Homo sapiens: one gene and its partner. The protein of the gene in region 1 purifies or fractionates together with the protein of each later gene. This does not show direct contact. Each region holds a gene or a part of one and is shown in the gene's direction. Other genes may lie near its edges.

Region 1 (4,108 bases):
TCCTGCCTCAGCCTCCCCAGTAGCTGGGATTACAGGCGCCCACCACCATGCCCAGCTAACTTTTCTACTTTTAGTAGAGACGGGGTTTCACTATGTTGGCCAGGCTGGTCTTGAACTCCTAACCTCAGGTGATTCACCTGCCTCACCCTCCCAAAGTACTGGGATTACAAGCGTGAGCCACGGCGCCCGGCCAAGCATCCTCTTTCTAAGTCACTCACCCATGAGTATGAATTGTTTGCCCAGATTGCTTCACTCCATTGTAGCTGATTTCAACCCAGTTGTAAGCCTGGAGCACCTGGAGAAATCAGACCCAGGTGGGATCTCAAAGGTGGAGAGGGTGGGAAAGGAGCAAAAGAAAGAGAAGGGGTGCAGAAAGGGAGGGACACAGATTCCAAAGACATACCTGGCCTGTCTGAAGTTTGCCTCCTCCAGGAAGGGAAGGCAGCATTCTCCCGGTGCTGTCTCCCTCCTCCCCCGTGTACTGTGCACATCTCCTTCCCAGACTCAGCCCAGTTGCACCAAAAGCAAGCCACAAGGCCCATAGGCTAGTCAGACGCCCAACAACCCCACACAATGACACTTATGTGGGGAATTGTGTCCTGAGACCCAAACGACTGACCCCCCAATGTGCTGTGAATAAGCAGTGACCACAACCAGTACCACCTATGACTGAGTCGGGGGCTGCTCTCTAAGAACCCCAGCTGCATGCCCTCTGGGACAAATCAGGCCACCTGGGGCTCCTTCACATCTCTCCAATGCTGTGTTAAACGCACTTTTAACCAACTTTGTCAAAATGCTCAGCTGGTAAAGTTTTAACGTAGGCCCTTGTCAATGCTTCAGAAATAAGCCTCTGGCGGCGCGACAGAGCAAAACTCCGTCAGGAAAGTAAGGAAAGAAAGGAAAGGAAGGAAGGAGGGAAGGAAGGAAGGAAAGAGAGAAAGAGAAAGAAGGAAAGAAAGGAAAGAAAAGAAAGGAAACAAAGGAAAAGAAAACAAATAAGCTTCCAGGTCATTGCTTAGAAAGAAAAAGAAAGAAAAAAAAAGAAAAGAAAAAAGAAAGAAAAAAGCCTCCCGGTCATTGCTCCTCTCTCTCTCTGCGGGTCCATCCCCATGGCACCCTCCCCCCTCCCCATGGTGCAAAGTTATAGTGGAAAGTGCCTCAGCTGGAAAGATCTCAGAATGTGGCTTAGGGCAGCCACAATCTTATCAGGAGCTTCTCTGTTTGGGATCAGGGGAACCGGTGACTTTCAGAGGCCGATAAGGCGGGACCCAACTTGTATATAAGGGGCAGCTCATGCTGCTGCTCTGCACCTTCCTCCCGTCTTGCCTTCTCCCTCGAGTTGGGACCCGGGAAGAACCATGAAGTGGCTGCTGCTGCTGGGTCTGGTGGCACTCTCTGAGTGCATCATGTACAAGTGAGTCCGGGTGGTGTGGGTGTGAAGACGCTGCCTCCCACATCACCTTTCTTTCCTCCCGTGTCTTCCTTCTTCCCTTTTTTCTCCCTCTCTATTCAGCTGTCTCCATCCCCCTTTTCCGCCTCTCTCTCTGCCTTTTTGGGAGGCAGCCCTGCAGACATGGTTAAAACTCGGGCCCAGCCTGACTGTGGTTCCCAGCTCCAGCCCTAGTCAGCTTAACTTCTTTGCATTATGGGGCAGAAGTGGGAGCTTCTCCCTTCCTTCCATCTTCCTCTCTTAGATCAGCTGGTTAAGAGTCCAGCCTGGGTTTGGCTCCCAGCTCCAGCACTAGTCAACTTAACTTCTTTGCATTGTTGGGCAGAAGAGGGGGCGTCTCCTTTCCTTCCTTCTTCCTCTCTTAGACCAGCTTCCCTTCCCTTCTGGGGCTGCCACAGCACCCGGTCAGCAGAATCCTTGCCTAATTCCTCTTCCTTCTCCAAACCACAGGGTCCCCCTCATCAGAAAGAAGTCCTTGAGGCGCACCCTGTCCGAGCGTGGCCTGCTGAAGGACTTCCTGAAGAAGCACAACCTCAACCCAGCCAGAAAGTACTTCCCCCAGTGGAAGGCTCCCACCCTGGTAGATGAACAGCCCCTGGAGAACTACCTGGATGTGAGTGTGCGGGCAAGTGGTGGGGCCAGCTCTGAGGACTTGGCCCGCAGGAAAGAGGGTGTCCCAGGGGTCTTGGAGGACGGGCCTGGGCTCTGTGGCTCCAGGCAGTGACCCAGAGTCTGCCCCCTAGATGTCAGTGGCCCAGGGCAGGCAGGAAAGCTCACAGTCAGAGTTCATTCATTCATTCGTTCACTCGTTCATGCAATGTTAATTTCTCTGAGCGCCTCATTCTATTTCAGGGCCTGTGCTGGGCTCAGGGGGAGACAGCAGTGAGCAAACTCATAGCCTAGGAGACAAACACAGTCATCAAGGGGTCTCGCAAAGCAATGAAAGGAACAGGCAGCAGGAGGACTACAGAGTGACGGTGTCACACTGCGAGAGTCTGCCACTTGGGCAGGGAGCCTCCCTGGAGCCACGCAGGAAGAGCGGCAGTTTCCAAGACAACAAGACAGAACTCCGCATAGCCTGATCCCTTGTGCCAAACCCTGTAGCAGGCGGGAGCACAGTGCCTTTGAAGGGGAGCCGAGAGGGAGGGAAGAAGGGTGCTGCAGACTGCGGTCCGAGGAGCCGAGGGGTGGACGCAGAGAGGCTCCATCCTAACTGCCTCTGATTTATCTTAAACAGGGGTGTGACAAGATCAGATCTGAGTTTCAGAAAGATCACCCTGACTTTATTATTTGAGATCCGATAGCAAACACCCTGCCCTCCTGCAGATATTGTATGTCCCCTCTGTGACTGGCACAGGGCACAGGGCACAAAGCAGTGATGCCCGTGGTTCAGAGACTGGCCTCTGCCATCCAGCAGACCTGGTGCAAATATGGGTCCTAGTGCCTCTAAGCCACAGGACCTTGGCCAAGTCATTTAAATACTCTGAGCCTGTGTCTTGGTCTGGAAAACAGAACCACTAATATCTACCGTCAGAGGATGTTGCCAGGAATTAACACGATCATGTTTTCTGGAGTGCTTAGCATGGGGTCTGCCAGGCCCTTGGTAAGAGGCTTAATTAGCGCATTTATTTAGTTCACAAATATTTAACAAATATTGGCACCTCTCTATGTGCCAGAGGCTATGCAAGTTGCCAAAATGATGGTGAATAATCAAAGTTCCTGGAGCTTATACTCTAAAGGGGATGACAAATAAACAACCATGTAAGAGAATTTCAGATAATGATGAGGACCATGACAAATTAATTAATTGGACTATGGGGAACAAAAAGATTGAGAGGGGGCAAATTTAGATAAAGTGGTCACGGAAGGCCTGTTGGCAGAGGGGACATTTGACTAGAGAGCTGAATGATTGATTTTTGATAAAAGGATCAGCCAAGGAAAGATCTAGAATAAACATTTTCCTAGCACAAGGAATAGCCAGTGCAAAGGCCCTAGGGCAGGAGTGACTGGTCATCGCCAAAGAACAGCAAGCAGACCAGTGTGGCGGGAACAGAGCCGGCAGGGGGAAAATGCTGCCACTAACAAGAAAAATACTGGTTGATTGGCGGAGGCGGGTGGATCACTTGAGGTCAGGAGTTCGAGACCAGCCCGGCAACATGGTGAAACCCCGTCTCTACTAAAAATACAAAAATTTGCCGGGCATGATGGCACACACCTGTAATCTCAGCTACTTGGGAGGTTGAGGCAGGAGAATCACTGGAACCCAGGAGGAGGAGGCTGCAGTGAGCCGAGGTCGCGCCACTGCACTCCCGCCTGGACAACAGAGTGAGACTTGTCTCAAAAAAAAAGAATAAAAATTCTGGCAATGCCCTTTCTCAAAACCTGCTGTACACATCTAGACGTAGAAATAAGAAAACTGGACAGGTTTCCATCTTTAAGTGGCTTGCTTAGCTTCTGATAAACAATTTAAGGCACAAGCACTTAAGCTGTAACTTGCCCGGTGCTAGAAGGTTCCACCGCCATCCTCTGAGAACATGCGCTGTACGGATGGGAAGACTGTGACAGACAAGACAATGGCTAAAGAGGGAACAGCAGATTGTTAGGTGCTTGTGGTGCTTAACAGAGAGCAGAGGGTAAATTGGGGGAGCAATCAGGGAA
Region 2 (3,500 bases), on another chromosome or scaffold:
CATTTCATTGATTATAAGCAGGGAGAACTCTTACCCATTAGAAGTAGTTGGGCTGTGTTAAGACTGTACTGAAAGAAATCACGCATGTGCAAAAGAGATCACGATTCATCTACATTAAACCCACATTAAGGAGCACAGTAGGTGTTCTTTGAAGGTAGAAAGACATATTCCTGAATTTGGTTAATGGGAATTCTCTGTAAAAATATATCACTGCATCATAATGCTAAATAGGCTTAATTGCTACAGAAAAGTTTCTTTGAATCTGAGACACCAAGATGCCACTGGAGAGAAAAACTGCTGCCAGTTAAACTATGACAATACTTTTTTTATCAGAGGATTAAAATTTTACACTTACTGAAATATCTTTTAATCTTAGCTGGATATAAATTATATCACATTCCCTCTTGGGCATATATGAAAAGGAAAGCATAAGAAAATAAATTATTTAAGGCAAAGACAAGTAAGTCTCAAGTGCCACCTGTCAGACACCATTAATTTTAAGATGCCTCGAGATGTTAAAATGGGAATAACTATGTCTAAAAACTGATGAATCATTTTAAATAAGTATCTGGAAAGGTTTTCAGCTTTTATTATTCTTGTAGTTGTCCCAGGATTTACGGAATGAAACATCCCGGATGTTGGTGTTTTTCTCACAGGCAGCATTGTCCAGTTTATCCCTTCTAGCATGTGGAATGAGTTACCAGAGCTCACTGCAAATGTTCACCTAAGACTTGTTTTTCCATATTCTCCTTAGATGCTCTGCCTGGAGAGAAGTGATACAGTGTTTCATTGTCTGTGTATCTCTCATAGCTCAGGACCTATAGTTCAGGGTACCAACAAAACTTAAAAACCCATCCATCAGGAGCATCCTGCAGCATATCTGAAGCCTCAAATTCTCTGAGAAGTAGGGTAGAGAGATTCTTCTCTCCTGTTCTCTTGGTCATGCAAGCAGAAATTGATGTAGTGAATTATAATATCCAAACTGAATAGTTAGGACTAAATATACGTAGGTTTGTGAATAGTTTCTATAAAGGCTTACTTTTACTATCCTGTTTCCTTACCTGTACAATAAAAATGCTTATTTGTTAATATAAGGAATGTGATACATCTGTGAAAATAAACATGGCAGATAATATTAGATTAAAAAACTAAATCTAAATTTATATAGGGTATGATCCCATTTGTGTAAGCAAATAAAAATATTCATGTTTATCTTTATATGCATACACATGTACATGTGTTTGCTTGCACACACATGCATGTATGAATACAGAAAGATCTGGAAGTACACAGCAAAGTGTCTCTACAGGCCTGTCCTTGGGGAGAATAAAGGATTTAAGTAGTGTGGTAGCATAAGAGAGCCTACCATTTTTCTGAATCCTTCTCTAGGATATTTTCCTTTTTTTTTTAATCGTGAACAGGTATGTATGTGTTACTTTTTTTTTTTTTTTTTTTAAACAGGGTCTTGCTTGTCACCCAGACTAGAGTGCAGTGGCATGATCATAGCTCACCAAAGCCTTGATCTCCTGGGCTCAGGGATTCCTCCTGCCTCACCCTCCTGGGTAGCTGGGACCACAGGAGTGCTCCACCACACCCAGCTAATTTTAAAAATAATTTGTAGAGACAGGGTCTCAAACCCTTGCTCAAGCAATCCTCCTCCCTAGGCCTCCCAAAGTGCTGGGATTACAGGTGTGAGCCACCACATCAGTTTATGTGTACTTTCATAACTTAGATTTTTATTTAGTTAAACATCTAAGTGTAAGGCCAGGCACGGTGGCTCACACCTGTAATGCCAGCACTTTGGGAGGCTGAGACAGGTGGATTGCTTGAGGCTGGGAGCTCGAGACCAGCCTGGCTAACATGATGAAACCCCATCTCTACCAAAAATACAAAAATTAGCCAGGAATGGTGGTGTGCGCCTGTAATCCCAGCTTCTTGGGAGGCTGAGGCATGAGAATTGGTTGAACCCAGGAGGCGAAGGTTGCAGTGGAGCCAGGATCATGCCACTGCACTCCAGCCTGGGCGACAGAGCAAGATTCTGTCTCAAAAAAGAAAAAGGCTGGGCACGGTGGCTCACATCTGTAATCCCAACACTTTGGGAGGCCGAGGCCAGTGGATCATCTGAGGTCAGGAGTTCAAGACCAGCCTGACCAACATGGAGAAACCCCATCTTTACTAAAAATACAAAATTAGCCGGGCGTGGTGGCACATGCCTGTAATCCTAGCTACTCGGGAGGCTGAGGCAGGAGAATTGCTTGAACCCAAGAGGTGGAGGTTGTGGTGAGCCAAGATCGCGCCAATACACTCCAGCCTGGGCAACAAGAACAAAACTCTGTCTCAGAAAAAAAAGTAAGCACAGACTTCTTATATTAAAATGTAGAAATTAAGAGAGAGAGTGTGTATGTTTATGCTTGCTTGTCTAGTGTTTGCATAAACACTGGAAGGATACAGCGGAAACTAGAAGGGATTACTGATAGGGAAAGATACAGATAAGAATAAGAGTTAAGATTTATCAATTTTTACCTGTTTATATCTTGATCTGCTCAGGAGGCTGAGGCAGGAAGATCACTTGAGCCCAGGAGTTTGAGGCTGCGGTAAGCTATGATTGTGTCACTGCACCCCAAACTGGGTGACATATGAAGACATTATCTCTAAAAAAATTTTTTAAATAAAAAACAAAAAAGTGTGGACATATTAAATTTTTTTTTTATTTGAGATGGGGTCTCACTATGTTGCCTAGGCTGGAGTACAGTGTCACAGTCTTGGCTCACTGCAGCCTCTGCCTCCGAGGTTCACATGATCCTCCCACCTCAGCCTCCCAAGTAGCTGGGACTACAGGCATACACCACCACACCTGGCTAGTTCTTGTATTTTTTGTAGAGATAGGGTTTCGCTGTGCTGTCCAGGTTGGTCTTGAACTCACAGACTCGAGCAATCTGCCCGCCTTGGCCTTCCAAAGTGCTGGGATTACAGGCATGAACCACCATGCCTGGCCCTAAAATTTTTAATAAAAAAAGTTTAGGCTGGGAATGGTGGCTCACACCTGTAATCCCAGCACTTTGGGAGGCTGAGGTAGGCAGATCACGTGAGGTCAGGAGTTCGAGACCAGCCTGGCCAACTTGGTAAAACCCTTTACTAAAAATACAAAAAATTAGCCAGGTGTGATGGTAGGCACCTGTAATCCCAGCTACTTGGGAGGCTGAGGCAGGAGAATTGCTTAAATCTGGGAGGCAGAGGTTGCAGTGAGCTGAGATCATGCCATTGTACTCCAGCCTGGGTGACAAGAGTGACTCTGTCTCAAAAAAAAAAAAAAAATTGAAAACAAAATGAGTTTTTTTCTGTGTACTTCATAAATAATGTTGGTATTAAAGATTGAATTAATTTGGTTCAGAAGTTTGAAACTCATTTGTAAATTTTATTTACATGTTTGTTGGCAGTATTTTGCAAAGGTCAGCATTAACAAATGTTTTCAGCCACATGCAATGCCACATGCCTGTAGT

What was found. The genes of interacting proteins can lie anywhere in the genome.
Region 2: the proteins of PGA3 (region 1) and RMND1 purify together in Homo sapiens (affinity purification with mass spectrometry; one large-scale study listed by BioGRID and IntAct). This does not show direct contact.

The regions. Positions count from the first base shown.
Region 1 is NC_000011.10:61,202,207-61,206,314, forward strand, and holds the start of PGA3 (pepsin A-3 preproprotein), read left to right. Parts: upstream 1-1,308; 5' UTR 1,309-1,358; coding exon 1,359-1,414; intron 1,415-1,900; coding exon 1,901-2,063; intron 2,064-4,108. UniProt on the Homo sapiens protein: Shows particularly broad specificity; although bonds involving phenylalanine and leucine are preferred, many others are also cleaved to some extent.
Region 2 is NC_000006.12:151,417,627-151,421,126, reverse strand, and holds part of RMND1 (required for meiotic nuclear division protein 1 homolog), read left to right. Parts: intron 1-3,500. UniProt on the Homo sapiens protein: Required for mitochondrial translation, possibly by coordinating the assembly or maintenance of the mitochondrial ribosome.